Linked DNA regions of Homo sapiens: region 2 is linked to region 1. Evidence: fine-mapped expression QTL. A gene starts in region 1. The other region holds a variant in brackets. All regions are shown on one strand. Distances are from middle to middle. Region 1 holds the start of NUDT6 (nudix hydrolase 6). Region 2 overlaps AFG2A (AAA ATPase AFG2A).

Region 1 (11,595 bases):
AGACGGTAGAAGATATGAAAAATATATGAAAAAAGATAAAGGCATTAACAGGTGATAATGAGAAAATGACAAAAATATTAAGGCAAAATAACTTGTAAAGTAATCCAGCCTGGAAATTAAACTACATCCAGGAAATAGTGAGGGACACAGAACAAGAGCTTTGTCAGAACCTGGGTCTTATCAGATTTAAATGTTAAGAGGGAGGAGCGAAAATTTCTAGCTTAAGCTCACACATTTATAGTCCTCTCTTCTAAAAGACACAGTAAAGGACCTTTAAAGCATAAGCCAGAAAAATGAAAAGAATAGGAGGGGTGCCATCAGCAGACAAAAAATTTCAAAGTATTTCCAAAGGATCCCCAGCAAATCAGAGAAGCATCAAAGGAAGCCATGAAAGATAAGGGGCTGGTAGCAGAAAAGAAAGCCAAGCTGCCAAAAATGATCCAGGAAAGGTTCCAGGCTTAGAATCTCAGGTATGAAAAATGACAGCAAGGAGAAACAGCTGAAACAAGGGAGAATAGTAAAATATTTATATACAGAACAGGTGACCTTCTTACCCCCAAAATAATATTTTTATAAAGAAATATAACTAACTGACAGGGAGAAATACTGTCACTATCGCCGGAGGCAACACTTCTCTCTACATAACATTTTAGGGGCTACTATGCCCAGCAGAGTCATAGACAGCAAAGGAACAGAGTTAATATACATGTTAATGTCTTTTAAAATACAGTTTTTCATTTATTCCTGCTTGTGTTGAAAATTAAAATCAGAAACATCTCAAACACAGGTTGAGTATCCCTTATCCAAAATGTTTGGGACCAGGAGCGTTTTGAATTTTCCATTTTGGAATATTTGCCTTATGTTTACTGGCTAAGCATCCCAAATCTGAAATCCAAAATGTTCCAATGAGCATTTCCTTTGACTACCATGGCACTCAAAAGCATTTCAGAGTTTAGATTCTTGGATTTGCAATGTTCAGTTTGTATTTCTAAACTAAGGAAATGAAAAAGACTCTTACCTCTTGCTTTCCGTTCAAACTAGTAAGCAACACTGGTCGACCTATACATATATTTGCAGACTTCATAGTGTTGAGTCCAAGATGAATAAGGGAATTCTGGAATGTTTTAGGAATTTTGTCATCTACTATGAAGGAAAAGAAAATTATTTTTGTACTACTTTGTAACAGAAGTTAAGGCATGCTTTCTTTTGCAGTAAATAAAAATACTCTAACCATATAACCACATGAATGTACTTACCATACCCTGGAGAAACTAGTGTTCCAACTTTTGTTATAACAAAACAGATTTAAAATCAAATGCTTTTGAGGGTCTACTGGCAACATATTAAGTATTAACTAAAAAGAAGATGTTTTATGGGGTGAGTATTGGTTTCTTTTTTTCTGAGTCTCTAATTTCATTAAGAAGTAAACATAATTGCAAAAGAGAGTCTCTGAGCTTTAAGTTCAAAGTTGAGTCAGCTACTAGTATTCAAAGGATTGAACTGGGAACTGGCACATCTATCTGGCTCTAGAGGATTAAGTTATGTTTCTACTTCTGCCCCACATTATGGTCACCAGATCTTTTTCTTTTGTATTACCAAGAATACGTAAAGAGAGTAACAGAAGTCGTCTTCCTTATACGAACACACACCACTAGTGATTTCAACTTTTGGCTGAAAAAGGGGGTCCAGAATTCAGGCCAGTTAACAACACCTCTGAAAATGATGTGCTGTCATCTCCACTCCTTTCTATCCACCCCACCCCCACCAAGCTCCATATTTAGTTAGGTGTCCCTCCTCTAATTCCTCCAGCACTCTGTGCTGCCAGTTAATAGCATTTACCATAATATTCATTTGTTTTAGTCTTTCTCCTTAATTGTATACTGCTTTGAAGCAGGAATTGGGTCCTATTTCTCTCTGTATCTCCAATGCTTACAGTGCATTAAATATAGCAGTTGCACAATAAATAGCCATAAAATGAATAAATGTAGTAAATAAGTATACAATGGTTTTCTTTTCAGCACAAAATCTATGAAACACTTAGAGAATTTAAAAATGTCACAACTTCATTATAAAATTTATTGTAAACATATATACCATAATCACAGAGCTCTACCTAAGTTTTCCTTAATAATCAGAAAACAGATATTCTGTAATAAAAAAGAAATTAAATCAAGGAAAGGAAAACCATAAGGTACCCATATGATTTACATTATTCTGTCACTACAAAACAACTCCCCAACACATTTCTTTTCCTTCTTATATGAGGTGCAAATCTAGAAAAACAAAGCATCTCACAGAGCTAAGATGAACAGCACTGAGTATAAAACGAAATGAACACATACTGCATAATACAAGAAGCTGGACAGAAATTCAACCTTCCAATGAGCATTAGTTCTCTTACATTGTTTGCTGGTCATTAACAGTAAAGCATACTGCTGTTAGATGATCTCATAATATTCAGTTCCTGCCTCTTTCTTCCTAAACCTCAATGAACTATCTTTCCCTCTTGACAATTACCACACAAGTGTTCTCAGTCCTTCCCAAGACTTTAGTTTTCTTCTTCTCCTTCCACCCTATCCAGCACATTCTCCATGTCCCAGGATTTATTCTCCACCTTGTCTTTCAATGGTAATCATGTTCAAATTCCCAGCCACTGGTCTCATTTTCCAAAACATCACCAACGTGTTCTCTGCTTACACTATATAGGTCTACTCAAGTTGTCCACACAGTTCCCTTCTCACCTCACTCCTCCAATACTTTAAAAATATGTCAACATCTAATTTCCCCATTAACTACTTTCACATTTATTGAGCACCTTAAGTATCACATTAACTAACAAGATAGTAAAGATAATTTCAAACAACCATCCACCCTTCATTTATTCATTCAGCAAATATGTACTATGTGCCTACTATATGAAAGATACTATGCTAGGCACTTTTGTTCACAAGTCCTTGGTCTCACAGAGTTTATAGCCTTGTAGGATGAGTGAGTTATTAAACAATCAGTGGATAGCTGTAAAATAATAAACTAAGATTAATACAATGAAAAAATGACTTAGAGTGCCAGGAGAGCCATGTGGGATCTGACCTAATTTCAAATAAGAGAATGTTTCTCAAAGGAAGTGATGTTAAGATCAGGTCTGAAAGAAGAGTAGGAACTAACTAAATGAGGAGAAGAAAAAGATAATTCTCAGCAAAGAGGACAGCATGTACAAAGTTCCTGGGCAGAAGGGGGTATGGCGCATCCTCAGGAGAGTATAGGCAGAGTGGTGGAGACATAGGGAAGCCATGTAAAGAAGGTCAAGACCACCCAGGACAATAGTGCAATAGGCTGCATCAAGATGCTGGTCATTACTCTGACAGCAGTGGGAGCCCAGAAAGGGATGAAAAGCAATGTCATGACAAGATCTTCATCTTACAAGATCATTCTGGCTGCAGAATGGAAAAGGAATAAGGGGCAAAATTGGAAGCTGGAAAATCAGTCAAAAGGCTGTTGTAGCAGTCCAGGTGAGAGATGATGGTGTCTGAAATTAAGGTAGAAACAGTGGGAATGGCATGCAGAAGAGGAATATGTAAAATATTTAGGTAATAAACATGATTTAGTGGTGGACTAGGTATGTGAGATATGGGGGGGAGAGTCATGGATGACTCTTAGGTTTCTGAATTTTGCAGCGGGAAAAACTGAACAGAGTTGAAGTTTATTTTGTTGGAGGAAATAACGGGCTCATGAAGTTAGTCCTGAAGTATCTTTGGGACACTCATGAGAAGAGTTATTGTACAGTGCTATTCAAAATATGACCCACAACGATTTGTTACTGCTTCATGACAAGTACAAAACAGGAGAATAAGTATATAGAAGCTTTTATTGAAATTTACAGAGTAATTTCACATCTGTTTAATAAAAATTTTTCCTTATTTTTCTAGAAAATCATTTTTACTGTATTTTAGAAAAGTGCTGATCTGTGACCTATTATAAATTTTAAAGTCTTCACCACAGAGAGCTTGAGAAGCATTTGGCTAAAAGGCAACCACATCAAGGCGCAAAAACAAAAGATTTACAAATATAAATCTGACACTGAAGAGACTATAGATGGGAAACTCTGGGCACTGGATGAACTTGCCAAGGAGACAGGATTTATTGAGAGGAAAAAAAAGGTTTTGGACTAAGAATTGACGAACTTCAACATTTAATGGTCAAGGGAAGAGGACGAGCCTGCAAAGAAAAATGATGAAACATCAACAAAGATGAAGAAAACCAGGCAAGTTTGACAACACATAAGAAGTTAAGTGTTTCGAGAAGGAGGGAATGGTCAACAATACCAAAAGTTGCTGTGGTCACGTAAGGTTTATCAACACGGAGATGCTCGGAGACCACACCAGGAACAGTTTCCATGGAATGATGGGGTGGAAGTCAAAGAGGAATAGGCTAGGGAGAGTATGTAAGTGGTGAGGCGGCAGAGACCACTCCATTTAAGAAGCTTGGCAATGGATAGAGAGACGGTTGCAGGAAGAAAATGTGGAGCTTTTGTTCTGATTTAAGATGGAAGAGAAATGAGCATGTTTACATGTCAATGGGAAGGATCTAGTTCAAAAACAAGTTGAACCTTCAGGACAGAACAAGTTGTCCTCTGATACCTAAGGCAGAGTGAAAATACCATGTGAACTCTAAATTGTCTTTAAGGTCTGATTAGACATAAAAGTTTTTGCCACTAGTCTGGTCCATTTTTCAAAGCTATTACACATCAAATATAAATTTTCAATTTTTAATTCAATTTATAAGACTTTTCAGTATAAATACGTTCTCCCAAATCAAAGGAGCTGTCATCTAGGAATGGCTTTTAAGTCAAACACATCTGGACTCAAATATCGGCTCTGCCACTTAGCACCTGTGTAGCCTGAATGGAATCACGTTAACTTTCCTCCCTCTATAAAACTGTCATTACTATACCCATCGGTCACGGCTTCTGTAGAAATTAGATGAGCTATATATACTGCTAACACTAGTGTGCAGTTACTAGCAGTTATTAAATATCATAACCTGCGTAGTACTGGAAGAAAATGCTATCATCACTCCTAAAGGCAGAGTGATCCACATTTTTACTGAATTGGTTATTTAGTTTTTTAGGATAAGTATCCCATGTTCGCTAGTTATGAACAATTTTGCAATTAAATGTGTCGTTAATGTTAAATGAGACAAAGCGTTTCAAGTGCAACTTAAAAATTCAAAATAATTTACAAAAGAGAAACCTTGGACACGGATAAACCATTTCAGCCTAACTTCTCCAGTGCAGGCGCGGCTACGTTTGCATGCTTCTTACATACAGAAGTCTTACACGCTTCTGTGCCGCTCTCAGACCCATGCCACGCCCAACTTTCAAAAGTCTCTGCACCCCAAGTCAGTATCACTGAGTCTCCCGCCCCTCAGGTTGCGCCCCCTCGGCCTCTAGTCTCCCACCCGGAATTCTTTACCCTTTTCTAATAAGTTGGTCACCGTCAGAGTCCCGGAGGTTGCCGCGAAGTCTGATCCAGCAGAAGGAGCCCGTGCCTCCGCACAAGAGGAAGCAGCAGAGGGCAAGGACGAACCATTTTCCGCGCTTTGGTTCAACCGCTTTCTATTCTTCTTGGAAGACATGGTCACAAGGTACCCTAGCCGAAGCAGTAGAAAAGCCGACTCAATGTGCGCGCTTCAACTGAGAGAAAAACTTCCGGGGCAGAAGTCAGCGAGGGTCCGCCCCTGCGCCGTAATCCCCTGAGTGGAGCGCAGCAGTGCACAGCGTGGTGGGAGGGACTGAGCGTTTTCAAAACCAGCAGTCTTTGAAACAGCTGTAACGGCATCTGTGAAAGAAGATAGGTTCCAGGAACGGAACTGCCACTTAGATTGTAAATTCCTGAAAAACAGGACGTTTTTGCATCTCCTCCCGGCTTCCCCATCCCTAAACCAACGTCTGTTGAATTAAACTACCAAACAAAATAAGTGAGTGGCGGTGGGGGAGGAGGTTTTCCCCGCTTAACTGGAGCGGGGCAAATTGCTGAGAAGGGCTGGTGGACCACTTCGCGGTCTCCTTGGCATAGCTCTGCAGAGTGGTAACCCCAGCTCAACTCTGAGGGTATTGATGGCACTCTTCTAAAATGTACGGCCGCGATCTCCGCTCTGGAGCGCGGAGGGGTCATTTGGGCAACGGACGAATTAAGCGGCGTGGAGATGCGGCAGCCACTGAGCTGGGGCCGCTGGCGCGCGATGCTTGCCCGAACCTACGGCCCCGGGCCTTCGGCGGGTTACCGCTGGGCCTCGGGCGCACAGGGTTACGTGCGGAATCCGCCAGTTGGAGCGTGCGATCTGCAGGGCGAGCTGGACAGATTCGGGGGCATCTCGGTGCGCCTGGCGCGGCTCGATGCGCTGGACCGCCTGGACGCTGCCGCCTTCCAGAAGGGCTTGCAGGGCAAGTGCGCCTGGGACGAAGGGCTCCCGGGGCTCCAGAGCTTTTCTAATGAAATAACCGCGGCCCCCACTCCCTAGTCGCTCTGTGCACCACTGTCGAGCCCAGAGGGAAAGGGAGAAGGCACGCGTGACCTGGACCTGTTTTCTGGAGCATTCGTGCTTAGACCTTTTGCTGGGAGGTCTCTAAGGCGGTTGGGTGAAATGGTGAAGATCCCGGACTTTGGGATCTGCAACCCTGGTTGCTGGTCCACTTTCTACTGTGCGACATTCGGAAATTGCCGTAAACCACCATTTCCTCTTCCACAGACCCCGGTGATAAGAACTCCTGGAATTACTGAGAGTTAATTTGGATAATGCACATAAAGTGCACAGCACAGTGCCTGCCACGTATTTAAAGCTCAGTAGATGTTTGTTAATATTATATTATTACATTATTAGTATCCTTTACCGAGCCTTGGTTCTGTCGGACACTTTTCCCAAGGAAAAAAACTCTTACATTCTAATACGGGTGGTGGACTGAGTGGACCAAAGAGGCTTTTCTTTTTTATTTTTAATTTTTGTGGGTCCATAGTAGGTGTGTATGTTTATGGGGTATATGAGCTATTTTGATAGAGGTATAAATGTGTAATAATTACATCAGGGTAAATGAGATACTCATCACCACAAGCATTCAACCATAATCCAGTTACTCTTAGTTATTTTTAAATGTACAGTTTGTTTTTTTTTTTTTTTTTTTTTTTGAGAGAGGGTATCATTCTGTCTCCCAGGCTAGAGTGCAGTGGTAGGATCAGGGTTCACTGCAGCCTCCAACCCCTGAGCTCAAGCAATCCTCCCACCTCAGCCTCCTGGGTAGCTAGGACTACAGGCGCGCATCTGGCTTTTTTCTATTTTTTCTAGAAACGGTGTCTCACTGTGTTGCCCAGGCTGGTCTCAGTCTCCCGGGCTCAACTGATTCTCCCGCCTTGGCCCCTCAAAGTGCTGGGATTACAGGCAGGAGCCACTGCACCCAGCCTGAATCTTTATTGAATATAGTCACCCTGTTGGGCTATCAAATACTAAACCAGAGAGGTTCAGAGTGTCACATTTGTATACAAATTGGGTCAACAGCTGTCTCAGCGAGAACTGGAGTTTTTTAGAATAACGCTTCTTTTATGATTAACCAGGGACGGTGGTGGGTGGTTTCAGTCTTCAATAAGAAAACTTTTTACTGGCTTTCAACCTTGAGCCCAATGATAAGAAAGCTTGGATGGAGGAGCCTTCACTTTGGAAGAAGTCGATTTAGTGGTGCAGCAGTTTTTCAAACGGCCTCTGAGGGTTTTATAATCTAATTGAAGGCATAGCATGCAAATTCAACTATGGAAAAATCTCTCACACTGGAAACTCAAAATAATCTTTATCCTATTGAGCAATATGGCAAGAAGCATATCTGTAAATATAATTGAGCTAGTTATTTCAATGTTTACTCATCCTCATTCCCAGACTTCTTACCTCTTCACATTATTTTCTCTCCTACTTGCTAGTAATTGCTGACAAGCCCGCTTATACTGCAACAGTGTCACTAATAGGAGAATCAATCGTTTTATCTTCCAGTGTGTGGGTAGACACAGGTGTTGTACCCACTGATACTTATCAATGACCAAACAGGTGATCAAAGCACTACCCCAGTCAGCATGACAAAGCAGAAAGCTGTGCGATTTGGAGGTGCACATTCTGGGTTTAAGTACCAGGTTCTGCCATGTGCTTAGCCAGGCATTAGGCAAATTGCCACCAAAAATATTTGCTTCTTAGCTTGCTTTTTGTGAATAACGCCAGCTCTAATTACTGGATAGATGCGTTGATCAAAGATGAAACTAATTTGTAAACTTAAGTACCAAATACTTGTTATATTTTTTCAATAAAACAAATTTTGTTGCACTTAATGGTAGATGTTTTAGGATCTTTATAAATAGTAATTAATCCTCCTAACAACCCTTTGAGGTAGATAGCATTATTATTCCTATTTTAAAGATGACAGTAGTGAGGCACAGAGAGAAAAATTTACTTGCCCTGGCTCTACACCTTTCTTACTGCACTATGCTACCTTGAAGAACTCCTGCTGGTTCTGTTGTTATAATTGAACAAAACTAACTGAATGGTAGTGCCTATAAAGAGAGACTATTTACACATGAAGTCCGCTATTCTTAGTCTTTATGGACTAAGAAGTCCATATTCTTGGTGGAATAAGAAGTCAACTATTCATATTCTTTTAGAACATGAACTATTGATGTTTTGTTACCAACAACTGAAGTTAGAGGGATAAACAGGCAATATGTTGTTAGCTTCACACATAACATATCTGCATCAGTAATGAAATAGCACTGGTTCTGGTCCCTGCTATGCCACTCACCAGCTATGTGACTTTAGGCAAGCCAGTCATTTCATTAGTACAAATTGAGCCCCAGTGCATAATGTAGGGTTACCCTGGAGGATTGCAAATGCATGGAATATTAAATAGAATTGGAAAAAATAGCTAATGGAAGAGATATCATTAGGTCATATGTAATAAGTTCTAATAAATTGTACAGACATAGTAGTCTTTAAATTCATAATGGTGAGCTCATGAGCAGTGGTTAGGAAAGACTGGTCAAAGATGTGGAATATGAGCTGGACTTTAAAGGATAGATATTAGCAATGGGAATGGGAGGTGAGGGAAGAAAAAGCAATAAAGCTTATTAGGGAAAAGAAGAAAGCAATTTAAAAATGATTCTAAGGTTTCAAGCATTGGTGCCAGAAATAAATAAGCTTATAAATGAAGCTAGTTTGGGGTGTAAGATTCAGTTTTGGCCAGGCGCGGTGGGTCACGCCTATAATCCCAGCACTTTGGGAGGCCGAGGCGGGCAGATCACGAGGTCAAGAGATCAAGACCATCCTGGCCAATATGATGAAACCCCGTCTTTACTAAAAATACAAAACTTAGCTGGGCATGGTGGCACGCACCTGTAATTCCAGCTACTTGGGAGGCTGAGACAGGAGAATCGCTTGAACCTAGGAAGCAGAGGTTGCAGTGAGCCGAGATTGCACCATTGCACTCCATCCTGGTGACAGAGCAAGACTCCGTCTCAACAACAACAACAAAAGATTCAGTTTTGAACACACTTTGTGAAGTCTGAAGTGGTAACCTTCAGGACAGGAAATGTCTGGGAGCAACTGGAGAACAGAAAGTTTAGTGTTCAGTGAGGTCAGGGCTGGGCAGCCATCCTCATGTATGTATCAGCTGAAGCAGTGAGAGTGGATTCTCCAAGACACAGAGTGTAGATATAAAACAGCAAGCAAATAGCATTGCTTTTAGAAAGTAGCCTTTTAATTTGATTGGAAGGATTGCCTGGGAAGGAGCACATGTGAAATGTATGGAGTGATAGAAATGTTCTATAATGTTAAAGTGTGTTACGGGCATATGCATATGTCAAATCGCATGAAATGTACACTTAAGATTTGTACATTTCACTTTATGTACTTTACCTCAATTTTTAAAAGATGTCATCAGACAAAGAGAGCAAGGTGAGAAGGACCTGATCCCATAATTCCACTGCATGCTAACTCAAATCAGGAAGTCTTTATTAAAGGCCCCATGTGCCTGTCACTGTGCTAGGCACAGCAACTTTCAAAGAGGTAGAGAACATTGTCCTTAAAGAGAGGAGCTTCCTGCAGAGCTAGGGAAAAGAGAAGGGAAAGTTAATTAACTATTTGATATATAATCAACCCCCAAAGACAGACACACACACACGCTTTATAGCGTTATTATAAAGATTAAGTGAGATGATGGATGAAGAAAGTGATCTGAAAAGCTTTTCTAAAAACTCTAAATCTGAAGTATTTATTTCTTCACCCATAAACTTAAGGTAGTAATACCTTTCATGGTTGTGCACTTAATGAGATAATATATATAAAGTGCTTGGAACTTAGTAAGTTTCAAATAGATATTAGCATCTTTTTCCCCTGGCTCAATCTTAAGTAGTAAAGAGAATTTAAAGAAGGCAAAGATAGAAAACCTATAATTATGTTCACCATGATATTATCTATAATAAGGAAAAATTAGAATTTTATTCCTATATGCTAGTAAAATGTGAAGTTTGATTTCTTCATATTTTTTATTTTCAAAATTTCTACAACCAGCATACATTATTTAAAAACAAAGTTTAACTACCTTGAAATTTATACATTAAAAACATTATAACAGAACTCCTAAAGGAAGAAAAAAATAGAAGTCCATAATTGTCTTTAAGATTAAACCTAAGGATGTTAAAAGGAACAGCATTCAAATGGTATTTGATTCGGTTTAAATCCTTTTATTTGTCCACTCTAAAACTACAGAACATCTGTTACGTGCCAAGCATTGTCTTTGGTGGTATGGATATAAAGGTCAGCAGTGTAATGACTTTATTCTGAAGGAATTCAGTCTGATGGAAAAATCATATAAACAAGGTGGTTACTATAAAACATGGTACTTCCAGTGCCAGCGATGTGAACAAGACATTTGGGGACCTCTTTTGCTTAAAGATGGTTTCCTGGAGGAGGCGAAACCCTGAGGTGAGTTTTAATTTATTCCACTCGTCTCTTTGGAAATTATTTAGACTTTTTTCTTCTGCATTTAGCTGCAGTACAGCAATGGCGATCAGAAGGTAGAACAGCTGTATGGCTGCACATTCCCATCCTCCAAAGCCGATTTATTGCCCCTGCTGCTTCCCTGGGCTTCTGCTTTCACCACGCAGAATCGGATTCATCAACGTTGACTCTGTGGCTGAGAGAAGGGCCCAGCAGATTACCAGGATATGCTTCACATCAAGTAGGAGTTGCAGGTCAGTTTCAAACTCATGATGAGCAGAATTAACTTTTTAGACGTTCACCCAATTTCTTGCTTGTTACAGCTAAGCAAATAGTTTATTCATGTGGAATGAGTTATTTGATTAAATGATTACGGTGGTTCCACCCTATCTGCACAGGATGTGTTCCAAGACCCCCAGTGGGCACCTGTAACCGCAGATAGTACCAAACCCTATGTATATATACCATGTTTTTTCCTATCACACATATTTATGATAAAGTTTAACTTATAAGTTAGGCACAGTAAGAGATTAACAGTAACTAACAATAAATTAGAACAGTTATAAAAGTATA
Region 2 (17,372 bases), 33 kb before region 1:
ATAACAAAAATCTAAGTCTCCTTTTTTTAAAATGTACTTTCCTCAAAATATCAGAACTCTAAAAAATTTGTTTTATTTGGAGTCTTTATTCTCCCTCAACTCTGTATTAAGTATAGACAAGGTGCTAAGTATCACTTGCTGTACCACTAGGAAAGTTTCATTTCTCACTGCCCATTAATAAATAAATTTTTAAAAAATCAAATAGAATATCCTTAAAGGTTATTGTAGTTCTCACCTTATTTATATTATAAGTGACTGCTGTAACTTAAACTGATCAAAGGAGCCAGTCTATTCCAAACCCTCTATCACTTTCAAAAGTTGCTTTTAAAGGTAATGGCACTGTGGAAGGCACATTTGTCTCCAGATCTGAACCTTAAGCCAAGGCTTATTTCTCACTAACTGCTTGAGTTTAAATGTATCACATAGTCTCTCCTCATCTGTGAAATAAGGGAATGTACTAAATTATCTCTGAAAGAGTAGTCGATTATTCTATTCTAGTTGCAGTTTTTGCAATTACTTTTTTTTTTTTTTTTTGAGACAGTCTTGCTCTGTTGCCCAGGCTGAAGTGCAGTGCCATGATTTTGGCTGACTGCAACTTCCTCCTCCTGGGTTCAAGCAATTCTTGTGCCTCAGCCTCCCAAGCAGCTGGGACTACAGGCATGTGCCACCACACCCGGCTAATTTTTGCATTTTTAGTAGAGACGGGGTTTCACCATGTTGGCCACACTGGTCTCGAACTCCTGACCTCAAGTGGTCCACCCGCCTCAGCCTCCCGAAGTGCTGGGATTACAGGTGTGAGCCACTATGCCCAGCCGCAATTACTTTTGCACCAACCTATAGTTGTAAAACATCAAGATTAATTCACTTCACCAGTCCTAGGTTTCAAACTGCCCTAAATACAGTTTCCATTTTCAAATTTTTCATATTTCATTATTTACCTACCTGGCTTAACAACCTTACTAAAATACTGAGTTTTGTTTTTGTTTTTGTTATTTGAAAAAAGGTGATTAGAGTACAATTTGTATGCCAAGAGAAGCTGAAGATTCACAGCTGGGTAGACTAAGTCAGGGCCCAGGTAAGAGAAGAGTAACCAGGAAAATAATAAAGAAATATAGTTAGATTTGGTTTTTACTGGAGACAGGGAGGGATGACAAGGAGGGAGGACTAACTATATTTATCCCTCTTTTATGGAAAGCATAAAAACTCTAAATATTAATAATAATACATCAACAAAACTAAAAAAGAAATTGACAATCACTATATCTGCTTCTTCAACTCTCAATCAATCACCCTTCAATTTATTGCAATCCAGCAGCTAGGCACAAGACACCACTAGAATGTCTCTCTTCCACACTCCCATGACCTCCCAAGTAGGGAACTAAGCACTTTATGTAACTGTGGTCTCTACTGTGATCAACACTGTTGATCCTAGTTCCACTATTTATTACCTGTGTGATCTTGGGAAATTTCCTTAATCTGACATAAGTTTCCTCAACTACAAAATAAAGAGAACCTCAGAGAGCTGCTGTGAGGAAGAAATGTGTTAGTACATACAAGGTGCTTCAAACAGTGGTTGACATAATCCAAGTACTCAATGAGTGTGAACCAATACCCATTATTTCCTCACTGAGTGCTTACCTCATTTCATCTGAGTCACCACTTCTTTGGGTTCTCTTCCCATCTCTCTAGCCACTCCTCAGTTTCCTATACCAAATATTTTTTAACAACCCAACCTTTGAATGACAGTATTTCCCAAGACCTTTCTACTGTATTAGCATTCTGAATGCACCCTGATCATTCACATAACACCCAACACACTGTATTGTACTTATCTTATATACTGTTCCATTTCCCTGTGAGTCTTAGTTTCATGAGGAGAGAGCCCAAGTCTATCTTATTCATTGAGGTAGCCCCACCATCTAGTGCAGTACCTGGCTCAATGAGTGAAGGAACTCTACTCACCTTCTGTTAGTGATTTCATTCTTTCTACAGCTTCACCATGTTAACTACTAACAACTCCCAAGTCCATATCTCTAACCTAGACCTGTCCTCATCTTCAAAACCTATAATTCAAAGTCTTCCAAGTTAGACAATGTAAAAAATAAAGATAGATGAGAGGTGAAAAAGAAACAGTAGGCAGGAAGAAGGTATTTCAATAGTCCAGACAAGAGCTGATGATGGTGTGAACTGTGGTATAGCAGTGAAAGTAGTTAATTTTTTTAAGAGGTCAAATTCTGAATAAGTATGAAAACAGAGCTGACAGGATTAGATAAAAAAAGAGTAAGAGAAAAAAGAATCAAGAATAACTCTCAGAAATAACTTTTATTTAGATAGCCTGGTTTTATTTTTGTGATTGTTTTAATTAGAAAGAAAACCTTTCCTCAAGTTTTATATTTTTATAGTCTTGGCAAAACAACCCAGAAAATCTTCTACTAGCAAAGTAAATAGTATATGTCATTTAGAGCTTAAACAGAATCAAAACTACCACCTCTTTTTCTGAAACAAACCATTCAGTTCCAGTCATCTCAAATGAGTAGCAAAAGTAATACTAAAATACCCACTTCACTGATAAAAATAATTCCATCTCTATATAATATCCATAATATTTACACAGTAGGACAAATCCCAATATCACAAATATAACATTCTATAACTACATTTTAGAATTATAAAACAGAGGAGAAAATTCATTGCCTTATGAAATATGCTGCAAAATTACTGCTTATTTATCTAGCTACAATAATACGTCCCTTGTAAAATGCATTAATTAGAGCAGGGGTCCCCAACCAATGGCCCATGGGCTGGTACTAGCCTATTAGGAACTGGGCTTCACAGCAGGAGGTGGGCAGCAGGCGAGCAAGCATTACTACCTGAGCTCCGCCTCCTATCAGGTCAGCAGTAGCATTAATTCTCCTAGGAGTGTGAACTCCACTGTGAATTGTGCACGTGAGGGAAATAGGTTGTCTGCTCCTTATGAGAATCTAATGCCTGATGATCTGAGGTGGAACAGTTTCATCCGGATATCATCCCCACCCTCTCACCCCAGGTCCATGGAAAAACTGTCTTCCACAAAACCGGTCCCTGGTGCCAGAAAGGTTGGGGACCACTGAATTGGACTGATTATCATGACATATACATCAATTTAACTTGTATTCCTACTACTGTTGCTCTATGACACGCCTACAGCGAACTCACATCTGGGATGACCCAAAGTTCAGCAAGAAAATCTGTCAGCCAGAACAGTGGTTCATGCTTGTAATCCCAGCACTTTGGGAGGCTGAAGTGAGCAGATCACTTGAGGTCAGGAATTCAGGACCAAACTGGTCAACATGGTGGAACCCCGTCTCTATTAAAAATACAAAAATTAGCCAGGCGTTGTAGTGCATGCCTGTAATCCCAGCTACTCAGGAGTCTGAGGAAGGAGAATCATTTGAACCCAGGAGGCAGAGGTTGCAGTGAGCCAAGACTGCGCCACTGCACTCCGGCCTGGGCAAAAAGCGTAAGACTCCGTCTCAAAAAGAAAGAAAATCTGTCAAGGAGGCTACCCAAAAACAAGCCATATCTCTAGTCTGCATATTCTTACTGACGGGCAAGATTTTTACTGATTCAGATTCAGTGAAAATCACTACTTTAGCAAAGCAAAGGATTCTGCCAGAGTTCCCTATCTTTTATACTAGGATAATCAAGAACACTTCATATCAGAAAAATTGCCAAAATCCAAACAAGCTTCTACCAGAGAAATGCATAAATATACGTAAAATACAATTTTTAGAAAATGTTTAAATATCAATTTTCCAGAGGCGAAAGAAGAAAAGGAGAAATTAAGTGACACTTATCAAGGGCCTATATAAACCATCACCACTGCTGCCAGGCTATATTACTAAACCTCATAAGAACTCTTAAAACCATATAGTGTTATCCCTACTTAGCTGGTGAGGATATAAAACCCAAGAGGTTGAATAGCTTGCTCAATGTTTATCAGCTGATAAAGTATAATGATAGCATCTGAATGTAGAGCTCACCATAAGCTTTGCAATAAGTCCCATTATTTCCCTGGACTTTATTTTAAAATATCAAATTTCTACAGTATCAATATTTTAATTCTAACTTAGAAAACAACGTTGACAGAATTGAAAAAATAGTAAAAAATATTAGAAACAGAACCTTTCATAAGAGTTGGACTATTACATACATAGCAGATGCTCCATAAATCCCTGTTAAAGTAAGCTAGTTGGGGGTGGAGGGACAAATGAGCTAAAAATATCTCAGAACACTGGACAAGAGATAAAATTTTCCATCTCAGAAAAAGTTACAATTATTAGATTCGGTATTGCTACTAGACAGATTTAAGTGCTGTAATAACAAAATAATTATTTAAATATGAGTTTTAATTCTTCCTGTTCTGTTATGCTACCTTATCAAGGCCTGAGAATTTGGTAAGAACATGTTGAAATGATGTGTAATTAACAAGGATGCTAAAGACAATTCTTAGAGACGCAAAGCAAATACTTCCTTTCACCATAAACAAAATGACTAAGTCCACTTCTTGAAGAAATCAAGATCTATTTATATTCACTCTCCTGAAATGGCACAGGCAGCCTTAGAAGGATAAGTTTATAATAAATCCCTATATTTGGAAAACATTGTTGTAAGCATCTTCTAACATTCAACAGAGTTTACGAAACTTATGTCACTGCTACATAATTAATATTTCATGTTTTCCCAAAAAATGCAGTATGCTTATCTATGTTGTTAATTTAAAACATTATAAATTTTGAGGGAATTAATAAAAGGCTATGCAACTAATTAATTAGAAAGGCAGCCTAATCCCAGCAGGAATACAAACACAGACACTAAATGTCAGGATGTGTTAGAGTCTAGCTTGTAAACAACTTGCCCATTTGAGATAAAACATTTCAAAATGCAGCTGCTCTTTGCTTTAAAAAGGTGAACTACAAAACATTAGCTCTTTGGACAAGTCACGACATATCAAACCACACTCTAGCTAAAAAATTAATTATAAAGAAAATATAACTTTTGAAAATAAGCTTCACACCCAATCACAAACACCAAACGTTGTTATCTGCTCAGATAATGTGAGATCTAAGGGTTGAAAGCAACACTTCCTATTGTAGTGCTTCCAATTTTCATATTCATTATGGGAACAAAGTTAAAAGATATGGAAAATACTTAGTAACCTGGAATAAAAGATTAGAGATGTTGAGAGTAAGCACACTGTAAAAGACGCATTATCACTCTCACAAAGTATGGATTGTAAACCTTCTATCCTCTGAAAAGGCATGTACAATCTACACAAACACTACAGAGGTTTTGTATTCATATCCTACAAACAATAACCTTTAGATTACAGAAACAATCAGGAAGCATAGCTCACTATGTTCTAAGAAATTCTGAATCACTTCAATTCATGCCATTACTAGACATACGTGCACAACTTTTGTTAAAAAGTACAGAGCTTCCTTCACTATGCGGCAGTCCAGAAGAGGGAAAATCATCAGAGACACAACATATAAAAAGCACAAACATGCAGGTCCACAATCTTAACTAGGAAATACACATGTCTGTACTCTTACTTGTATTCTGAATTGTTAATTAACTGTTTTACTTGTGACTTTTTTTCAGAATTATTTGCCACTTTTAAAGTTTTATTCGGAACCATTATACATAACTGAAAAACTTAAGACATTCATTTTCTCTTGAGTGGCAAAGTTAAATGATAGTTTGGAAGAGCACATTACTATCACAAAAAACTTCTGGGAGGAAACGCAACAACACTATTAGAGACGGTCAAAGAATTTCAATCCCTAAATTTAATCCAGTTATTTAAATCAGTTAGAGAATCTCCAAAAACTGGGTAGTTGGTTGCCCTAGATCAGTGATTCTCAAAGTACAGTTCTTGGACCAGCAGCAATGACATACCTGCAAGCTTGTTAGAAATGCAAATCTGGGGCCCCACTTGGACCTTCTGGACCTACAGGAATCAGCAGGATAGACCCCAGAACTGTGTTTTCACGAGCTCTACAAATGCTTCTTACATAGGTTGGAGAACCACTTGCCTAAATCAGCGAATCAAATGTCCAGTCACAGACAAGGGCAAGACTGGCTGCTTCAAAATCACTTGGAAAACATTATAGATCCTGCCTCCAGCTTCCTAACTCCCTTAAACACTTAATTATGAGTGGGAATGTGACTGTGAGCATGAGTGAATGTGTAGTTTCCCAGGTGAGCCTGATGCATAATGAGGTTTAGGAACTAATGCCCTATAGGTCAATAGCTCTCAAAGTGTGGTCTCCAGATCAGCCGCATTAGCACCAGCATTAGCATCACCTGGGAACTTGTTAGCATTCTCAGGCACCAGCTCAGACCTACTGAATCAGAAACTCTTGTCAGGGGGATTCAGTAACCGAGTTTAGTAAATTCTACAGGTGATTCTCATATAATAATGTTTAAGACTCTTTGCTCTAAGTGATTGGTCCTGAATTAAAAACATGTGAAACAAACCTGAATTCCGTGGGGAAGAATAAATAATAGAAAGAGATAGATTTAACCTACATACCCAGAAATACATCTGGAGATGGAGTCTCTTAGTGTCAAACTCACGAATCTGGTCAAGATGCCTTAACTACCCATATATGCCAGTGGCCATTTACAAGCACTCCATTTAAACATAGCACAACTGGTGAACAATGAAAACACCTCCTGAAAAGCACTTGTTTTAAACAAATGTAGTTAAAGGCCGTATCAGAGCCAAAGCTTGGAAATCTGTCAGTGGGAAGGCAAAAATGGACTAAAACCAGTTATTTAAAGCAGCCTCACTGTCCTACATTTTTGAAGATTACACAGAACATATAACTTGCTCATTGCTACTTATAAAGGCAGGAATAACCACTTCAGAGTTCTTTCCTCAGCGCAAAGCAGAGATTTCTGAAGGCAACAAAGAGTGGAAAAAAAGAGATGATTCCCAAGGTGTTTACAAACAAAACTAAGCTCAACTCTAAAATTAATAAACACTATTCCTTTATCAAGG[G/T]TGTATAGGGTAATAATTATGTCTCCTAGATTTCACACATATTTCTCAAATTATTCTTCAACTAATCAAATACTTATTGAGCACCTATAATATACCAGAAGTCATTAATATTGCCTCCAAATATTAAGATATTACCATGACTCTTTAAAAAAACAATTATTCTAACTTTCTGGGTAATTCTAAGATCAGTGTAATGATTGTGACTGCTTGCACCTGCCCAAGGAAACTTATCATGTTTAACAACAACAACAACAACAAAAAACAGATGTGAGTTCAAACTTGTGTAGGCAGTTATTTCAAAGGACTGAGAGCAACTCAAATTATTCCCTAATAACTGCTGTAACCTGAGGTGGAATGCAACACCAAATGTCCAATTCTTTTTATTTAAAGCTAAGAGAGTAGTTCAAATCTACCATGCAGAATGAATGTTTTTCCCTATGCTCAATGCACACATCATAGTAAACAGGAATGCTGCTGTTATGTTCGATAAGTGGGATACACTTATGCCTATTCTATAGCACTTGGAACATAGTCCTACTACTTCAAATGCTTATAGTTTCCCAATTGTTTCAGCTTTCTAAGTCACACTACTAATCAAACTGGTAATTTACTCTGTCTTTAGTCAGAAATTATAAAACTGTTCCAATGAGAAAATGCAGTGCACTTCACAACCAACATTAGTCTGCTTTATAGCACTGTTTCTAAGAACACCATGGGAAAACCCTAACTACATAAGTGTAAGTCATTCACACAGATACAAAAGAGAAGACCACTGAAAATAGCCGATGAGGCCTGAAGAGGCTTAGGGCTTTTTCTTTACCTTCTTTCTCCCTTTCCTTTTTCTAATTCTTCCTATCCTTCTTTTTCTTCCATTTTTTTCTTGTTCTCCCTTACGTCCAGGGAATGTCATAATGCATTATGACACTAAAATATCATCTACTCCAATCTCCTCAATTTACAAATGGAGAAAACTGAGGCTCAGATAAGGCATAGAACCTGTCTAAGATCACAAGCCTGATTTTAAAAGCAAGTCTGTCCAACTCTCAAAACCTATTCTACACTATACCACCCTGCCTCATTAGAAAATTCTCTTGCAAAAATTCCAGCATACTGTTTTCAAATTTTATTCTGCTATATAAAGTTAAGAAAATGATACTACATAATACAACATACACTAGTATTTGGGACAGTATACACAAAACCAAACATATTTTCCCTACTGGATTCTGTAATTAGAACACTAATCTTTTTAAAAACTACTCCTCATAGGCGGAGCTTGCAGTGAGCCGAGATCACGCCACTGCACTCCAGCCTGGGCGACAGAGCAAGACTCCATCTCAAAATAAATAAATACATAAATAAAACTACTCTTCATAATCTGATTCATTGCTAGATTAGGGGAAAATAGATCAGTTCAACACCTGCATATTTTCTACTTTATCAACTGATGCTCTCCTTACTTTATCAACTGATGCTCTCCTTAGTATCATACGCTAAAATTAAATTATAAAGTCTTATACCCCTCTAAACAAGATCCACCTTTTATTAGTTTTAATTAAGAGCATGAAGTTGAAGTAAGATGACCTTGGCTTTAAATCCCAGCTCTGCTGGATACTCGCTCTGAGGCCTTTCTTGAGTCTGTCTGATACTTCTATCACAGGGTTGGTAGGAGGATTCAATCAAATAATGTTTTCCTTTTCTCACTTTCTCACTGTAGAACTCCTACTCTAAGCTTCTTCTTAGATGTCATTTTTTCTATTTAACCACAGTATTTGCTTTCCTCACAGAAGTCACTACATTTTTACATTTTTATGAGTAGTTTATCATTATATTTGTAGTTGTTTACAAATCTCTTTCCTTCATCAGACAGTGTATTTCTGGACAGCAAAAATTCCAGAGCCTTCTAGAGTGCATAAAATGTATTAGAAAGTCAAAAAGTCTCTAGTAAGGCATGCTGAACATGGCAAGTCCTACAGAGCAACACCTACACAGCAATCCAGACTCTTCATTACCACCTTATGCAATGAAAGAAGCAAAGCTATCTACTGATACTTCTGCTTTTTGATCCCTAGGTAATCCATTTCTACGACCAGGCCCACTAATCCCTGTGACGCTAGAAGCAGCTTCACAGAAACTAGACAGAGTGAGACCCAGTCCTAGAGCAAAATGTACCAAAAGAATGTTTGTATTTGCCTTGATAGTCTACATAACCTGCAGTCTCTCCCAACTGTGATTCCTATAACCTAGAAATTGTGGTAATGATCAAATAAAATGAAAGAAAAACGATTTTCTCCACCAACAGTAAGATATTCAAAGATTCCTAAATATCTCTTCCAAGTTTTCTTTTCCTAACTGTTTTTCCTTCTTGAGCCTCTTTCCCTACATATATCAGTCCAGATAAAAGGTCAAAAAGACTAAAGGCAGGGTCTTCAAAGCCTACTAAATTAGACAACTATGAGTCAATGATTTGGAGGTAAAAGTTATTGCATTTGTATTTCTGAACTAAAGCTCTAAAATAACTGCAATGGTTTGAATGTCCCTTCCACAACTCATGTTGAAATTTAATTGATATTTTTATTGTATTAAGAGGTAGGACCACTGGGAGGCGATTAGGCCATGAGACCGTAACAACATTAATCCTCAGGAATGGATTAATGCCATTACGGTGGGAGTGGGTGTATGGCAAATGCACCTGAGAGCAATAACTTAAGAAAGGAGGGTTGCCACGTGAAGGCTGCTGCACGGAGGGTGCCAAATAAAAGTGCTATATAAGCTGCATGCTTTTTGCAAGCAGTTGAGGTTCTCCTGTCTAGTCCACCACCACTGGACTGTCCCTGTATGTTAGTTCTCCCTAATAAAACCCTATGTCTTGTTTGCTAGCTCCAGGTCTCTTTTGCCTCTTGAACCTGGTGCCATCCTTACAGAAGTTAACACGGACTCAGTACCACAACTGGTGAACCCAGCAGGAAGGTGGAGAAAAATTTCATGAGCACCGAGACCGTAAGATCAGGAAAGGGGAAATCCAAGGGGGGGTCCCGGGCTGACCATCACATTTATGTGGTGCCCAAAAGCCACTATCCTTGATGGATGGGACCCAATGTATGAGTACAGAACACCCCAAAAACACCGAAGGGTCTGGAAGAGCTGTTGCAGGGGGTGGATCTAACTAAGCAAAAGTTAGATGCCTGAGCTGTGGCAGCCACAATGGCTGGCCATTCTTGACTGTGCTCCCAGCAGCCACTGAGGCTGAGCTCCCAGCACAGGCCAGGGGTTGTCTGTTATAGGAAGAACTATGAGTAGAAAGAGATGCCAGACTAGCTCAACCTAAAACATCAGAGACCCTACTGTCCTACCTGCAGAAACAGGATGACAAAATGGAAATCCCAGCTTGTCAGGTAGCCTGTTTGAAGGGTCGCCAGCTCCCATGCCAAGTTAGGACTATATGACTAAATCTTCCTAAGTCCAGGGACCCAGTGGAGAGCTCTAGTGAGGAGCAGAGTGAGGACTGGGATAAGCCCATAGAGGTCCTGTTCTCTCTACCAAGATAAAGTCAGACCAATGGTGCCTGCAGGGAGTAGACCCACAAAACTTGTCTCTGCCTGAAAGATGGTAGCATACCACAATGCAGCACTACACCACTATGGAACTAGTGGAGCTGGGCAGAAGGTGGGTTCAGGAAGAGAGACAGTTGATTGAGAGGTGGCTTCTCTGTCTATGGGACACGGGGATGGAGGGTGTTATACTCTCCAGACTCAAGATGAGTGGAATGGCATACATCGCATGCCACCCAGCCCTGAGGCAGCACCTCTATGGTGCCAACAATGAGGATCAGGCCATGCCCCTCCTTAGCTGGGTGGTTGTGGGCTGCAATGAAGCGTGGCCAGATGAGGGCAGTATCCCCATATCTCCTTTGTGATGGCAGACTATGGAGGAATTGCAGGACATCATCTGGAAATTAGGGATGAAACATGCTATCTATGCTGAACATCACCAAGGTCCAACAAAGAGCTTTTCACTGCCAACATGAAAGACACCATCTTAGTCTGCACTCAACCAATGGTATGGTGTGCTAGTGTCTACCCAGAGCCCCCTAGTAGGACAGCCAGTGTCTCAGGTGGCCCAAGCAGCCACCAACTTATGAGAAATGGAGAAACTGCATAGGCAAAGGGTACGTGCTGCTGGGATGAAAGACAAGGGCGCCAAAGGAAAGGAGATGGCCAAGGGGCCCATCAGGGTGACTGACCAACAAATGTGGCACAACCTGGTAGTGGCAGGAACAGCTACTATGAAAACAGATAAACAGCCTAATGCTGTTCTGGTCAGACTGTGGCAGAAGCTCACACCAGAAGAGTGCTTCACTAAGGAGCCTCAGGTTCAGCCCGCCACCCTTCCTGCAGAGGGATAGCAAGTGTCAACCCTGTTAGACTGGATGAAAGCCAAGGCCCCAGAACCCTGATAAGAGTAATGGTGGCCAGGGTACCTGGGGACCAGAGGCCACATGTAGAACTAACTATATATTGGTCGCCTAAGAATAAACACACTGTGCGTGCCCTAGTGGATACTAGAGCCAAATGCACTTTCATATATGGTGACATTCGTTGGTTCCAAGGGGCTAAAATGGCAAAAGATGGTTATGGATGGGGATCAGAAAGGTTGAACTGTCTGAGTATTACAAGTTGAGAGACTGCCACCAAAACCCTATTTAGTATGTATAGCTCCCATCTTGGAATACATCTTGAGAATGGATATCTTATCAGGCTTGACCCTCCAAACAACTGCTGGGGAGTTCTGACTGAGAGTGGTGAAGCATGTGACCAAGGGGAATGCGAAATGGACACCAGTCTAGTTGCCAACCCCACACAGCAAGTAGTAGCACTGAGGCAATACTGCCTGCTGGGGGGACATAATGAAACCACAGGGATTGTTAAGGAGTTAGCCCAAGGAGGCATTACAAGGCCAGTGCACAGCCCATACAACAGCCATGTACGGCCCATGTGGAAGCCTGATGGGACATGGACAATGACACTAGATTACTGGGAATTAAGTAAGGCAGTCCCCCCAATGTATGCACATGTTCCCAATATCACCTCCCTTCTAAAGAGGGCGGGAGAGGCACTGGACACATACCACTACCACTCTGTTACTGATTTAACCAATGCCTTCTTCAGCATCCCCATTGCCGCAGAGAGTCAAGACCAATTTGCATTCACCTGGGAAGAACAATAGACTTTTACCATCTTGCCCCAGGGATATTTATATAGCCATGGAGGTCCTGGAAGGGGTACACATTTTCCATTACAGTGATGATATCGTGCTAACTTCTGAGTCTTTTTCCAGCTTTCAAACTGCGCCCTCACACCTTGCTGCCTCATCTGGCAAACAGGATGAGCTATAAACACAGACAAAAATCCAGAGTCCAGGCTTATCAGCCAAATACTTGAGTCTGCCATTATGGATAGGGTGCAGGCCTACTCACATCGTGTGACACCAAAGCAGCTATAAATCTTCTTAGGACTCCTAGGGTATGGGCATCATTTTATTCCTCATTTGGCCCAACTCCTTAGACCCCTATACTGTTTAGTCAAGAAGGGGGCCCACTGAGACTAATCCACGAAGAAGGATGAGGCCTTTGAACCAGCTGAAGTCACAGTGAAATAAATACAAGCCTTGTGAGTTCAGGTGCAGAGACAGCCTGTGAACTAGATGTAGCCAGTTACCTTGAGGGGTTTGGGTGAGGCCCGTGGCAAAGGCAGAGACATACATATGCGCCTTTAGGATTCTGGTCCCAGCTACGGAAAAAGGGTGCAGTTAGATACAGTGTGATGGAACAACAACTCTGTGCTATACATTATGCCTTACAACAAGTAGAGGACATTACAAAAGGGGTCCTGATGCTAGTATGCAGCCAGTACCCCAAAGCAGGTTGGCTAAAGGGTATCTTCCAGAAACTGAAGTCTGGGAATGCCCAGACACAGACTGTGGCCAAATGGCTTACATACCTGCAACAAAGGAGCACATTAATAGCCCCTTGAGCTCAGAGCTCCATTCAGTGCTTGGCCCTGTCATCTATGTAACAACTGTCACATAGTCTTTTAGGGAGGCTGCTGAGCCTCCACAGATGCTCTCCTTCATACAGGATAGACAGGGCCCAATGTCTGACCGCCCAATGACTGACCAGGCCTGGTACACAAACAGCTTGTCACGAGGCAATCCTTGCACTTGAGCAGGCATAGCCATCCAGCCATCCACTGACAGGATCTGGATTGATGATACAGGCCAAGGACATAGCAGCCAATGAGCTGAGCTGCAAGCTGCCAGGATGGTCCTCCTCTATAAGCCAGACCCAGCAGTCCTGTGTACTCACAGGTGGGCTGTCTGAAGTTAACAGGCATCCGGCATGACATTCCTTAAGGAAAATTGTGATTCTCCAGTACACATTTCTCCCTGATTTCCACAGCACGATATATCAATAAATATTGTCTTCATCAATACTGCCAACAATGCATCTGATTACATGTGTGTGCGTGCGTGTGTGTGTGTGTGTGTGTGTGTGTACTTTGGAAAAGTCTGATAGGATACAGTCATCCCTTAGTATCTATGGGGTATCGGTTCCAGGACCCCTAAGATACCAAAATCTAAGGACAGCTCAAGCCTCTTATATAAAATGGCACAGTATTTGCATGTAGCCTATGTACATCCTCCCATATAATTTAAATAATCTCTAGATTACTTTTACCTAATCCAATGTAAAGGGACTCACCATGTGGCTACTACAATGGGAAGCACAGGACTAGACAGTAGCAGGTCACCTCCTTTGGTGCCCTGACATGTAGAAGGACATTCCCCATTGCATCTGGGGGATGCATAAAATGATCTACCATGTGGATCCCCACACTGCATCTACACCAACCTGGAAATCAACAGGCAGACAAATTAACCTGCATTCGTCTCCTCAAGGGAGTCCCCACAGACGATGTGGTCAACTGGTTACAAAAGAAGACAGGACATAGGGGACAACTTACCCTTTGGGCCATAGCAAAGAATTGGAGCCTGCCACTATGATACAAAGACACAGTACACATCTGTCAGCAATGTCTTACCCGTGCACAGGAACACCCCAGGCCCTTGCCACCTGATACCAGAAAGATCACCCAGGGCCAGAGCCCAGCACAATGGTGGCAGGTAGACTACATAGGATCTTTGCCCCTATTGGATGGCTGCCACTATGCCTTAACTTGTGCAGAAACCTGCACAGGGCTACAACGAGCATAACCCAGCAAGCATGCCACCATAAAAGGACCAGAACAGATGTGTGCAGCCTACAGCGTCTCCATCAATAGTGACAATGGGCCAGACACAGTGGCTCACGCCTGTAATCCCACCACTTTGGGAGGCTGAGGCGGGTGGATCACCTGAGGTCAGGAGTTTGAGACCAGCCTGCCCAACATAGTGAAACCTGTCTCTACTAAAAATACAAAAAATTAGCCAGGTGTGGTGGTACACACCTGTAATCCCAGCTACTCAGGAGGCTGAGGCAGGAGAATTGCTTGAACTCAGGAGGCGGAGGTTGCAGTGAGCCGAGATCGCGCCATTGCGCTCCAGTCTGGGCAACAAGAGCGAAACTCCATCTCAAAAAAAAAAAAAAAATTAACAATGACTAGGGCTCGTACTTTACCAGATATAAAGTACAAGAATAGGCAGAGGCCCTGGATATCCACTGGCATTTTCACCTGCCGTACAACCCTACAGCAGTGGGGCTGACTGAACAAATTGAATGGACTGTTGAAACAACTCCTATAGGAGTTGGCTCTGTGGACACGCTGCTTACCAGCAGCCGTGCACAAACTGAATAAATATGCACATTCTCATCACCCCATCATGTATACTCTTCTAACACAAGGATGTGATACGACCATCAGGATACAGGTAGACAGGGTAAGGGACAGCAGACCTTTGCCCCCAACCTGGGACACAAAGTAATCTGCTATGGCCCTTGCCACAGGACCAACCTACTGGGGAGCACATCATTACGTGGTTCTGGGAAATGGCAAACCAGCCCGATGGTTCAGTTTTTCTGCTCCATGGGGGAAGGGCCTAGAACAGGATATATATGTCACACCTATTTCATACCATACTCTCCACTGTAATTCTAAAATAATGAATCCTAGTCCTCCCTTGTGCAAGGGGATGAACATCCTCTCATGAAACACTATACCTCCACTGTCTTCCTCTGGCCTCCTGCAACACATTACAGAGGGGAGCCAGTCCATTTGGTATTGTAAACCAGGCATCAGGCTGCTGCCAGGGGTGGTGCTCTCTCAGAATGACACAACTCCCCATGTCTTGTTAAATGGCCAGGACTTGTCCTTTCTTGTACCCACTAAACAACTCACCTTTTGCCCATAGATGGTGTGCCGCAAACCTCTTTGCTGACTGGGTGCAGATGGTTATCTCTCTCCAGAAGAAAACAGACTGCTGGGTCTGCGGAGAGCTCCCCCTCTCCTCCGCTGTGGGCCTGCCATGCCACACCAAGGCAGTTAACATGAGTACCTGGGGCCACTTCGATACTTGGTATAGTGACCTTCACCTATTCCCCTTCAGCGACAACAGCACCTCATGCAGCAAGTTTCCCACCACCAACAACGTGAGATGGCATATTTTCCGCCTGGTAAAGGAGCAAGTTAATGTCACTCCCCACTGTAGGTAGGCTGTACACAATGATGGGCTAGAGTGGATGACAGCAGTGAGACAGAGATAGTGTGTCATGCACCCTTCTTTGTAAAATTGCATGGCCCTGGACATCTTAACTGCCCCCACAAGGGCGGAACCTATGGATTAATTAAAACCTGTTGTGTATGTATTCCTGATGACTCTCACGATCTAACCCAGGCCATGCAGGCCTTAAATACCCATATTTCCACTACAGAATCTAAGTCTTAAAACCCTATAACCACGTGTTTTAATCAACTCCTAAGCCCTTGAAAAACTTTCTATACAGTATGATTGTTATTATATTTGTTATTCTTTTTTGTTATTGTAGTTTATATTGCTACTGCAGCATCTGGCTGCAATGCTCCTCCACATACCTGGCCCCAGGGATCTCATGACAGAAAGGCATAAGAATGTGAGGGCCACGCAAGGGTATGCTGGTGCGGAGTATATGGCAGATGCACCTGAAAGCAATAACTTAAGAAAGGAGGTTGCCATGTGGAAGTTGCTGGGGGGAGGATGCTAAGTGAAAATGCTATACAAGCTGCATGCTTTTTGCAAGTGATTGCAGTTCTCCTGTCCAGCCCATCACCACTGGGCCGCCCTGTAAGTAAGTTCTGCCAAATAAGCCCTAAGTTTCATTTATTGGCTCTGGGTCCCTTCTTTGGCCTCTCAAACTTGGTACCATCCCACTGAAGTTAATAGGGGTCCAGCATGACACTCAATTTTAAGGAAAATTGTGATTCTCCAGTTTACACTTCTCCCTGATTTCCACAGCACAGCACAATATATCAATAAATATTGTCATCATCAATACCGCCACCAATGGATCTGATTACATGTCCGTGTGTGTGTGTGTGTGTGTGTGTGTGTGTGTGTGTGTGTGTGTGTATACTCTGGAGAAGTCTAGTAGGATATAGTCATCCCTTAGTATCTATGGAGTATTTGTTCCAGGACCCCTAAGATACCAAAATCTAAGGACTGCTCAAGCCCGTTAATGGCATAGTACTTGCATATAGACTACACACATCCTCCCGTATAATTTAAATAATCTCTAGATTACTTTTACCTGATCCCATGTAAATGCTATGTAAATACAGTTGACCCCTCAACAACTTGGGGGTCAGGGACACCAATCCCTGTGCAGTCAAAAAACTATGCATAACTTCTGACTCCCCCAAAAACTAACTACTAATAGCCTATTGTTGACCTGAAGCCTTGCCAATAATATAAACAGCTGATTAACCATATTTTTTATATGCATTATATGCTGTATTCTTACAATAAAGTAAGCTAAAGAAAAAGCAAGCTTTTTCAAATTGTTGCAAATCTCCAAAAAATTTTCCAATATATTTATTGAAAAATATTCATATATAAGTGGACCCATGCAGTTCAAGCCCTCATAGTTCAAGGGTCAACTGTAGTTGTGATACTATATTTTTTAAGTTTTTATTATTTTTTACTGTTTTAACTTTTTTTTCCTGAATATTTTCAGACCACAGTTGGTTGACTCCTCAGATGCTGAGCCCAAGGATATGGAGGGCTGACTGTATACACTATAATGGTGGTTATCCTTTAGAGGTAGGATTGAGTGATTTTTATTTTTTTTTATAGT

The links. PIP is the estimated chance that this variant, and not a neighbour inherited with it, causes the effect.
Region 2: its variant is fine-mapped to the expression of NUDT6 in whole blood (TOPMed, PIP 0.98).

What each region holds. Positions count from the first base shown.
Region 1 is chr4:122,917,182-122,928,776 of GRCh38, reverse strand. NUDT6 (nudix hydrolase 6) reads left to right here and starts at 6,180. Exons shown (of 5, transcript NM_007083.5): 1 at 6,180-6,442; 2 at 11,073-11,276. The coding sequence starts at 6,205. It overlaps AFG2A (AAA ATPase AFG2A), which reads right to left and starts at 5,699. Exons shown (of 16, transcript NM_145207.3): 1 at 5,472-5,699; 2 at 1,019-1,143. The coding sequence starts at 5,634. RefSeq lists enhancers at 5,338-5,707, 5,500-6,036.
Region 2 is chr4:122,947,664-122,965,035 of GRCh38, reverse strand. All of the region lies in intron 9 of AFG2A (AAA ATPase AFG2A), which reads right to left. Among named protein-coding and RNA genes, the nearest start is that of AFG2A, 33 kb to the right of the region's middle. The variant G/T (reference allele first, on the strand shown) is at 7,049.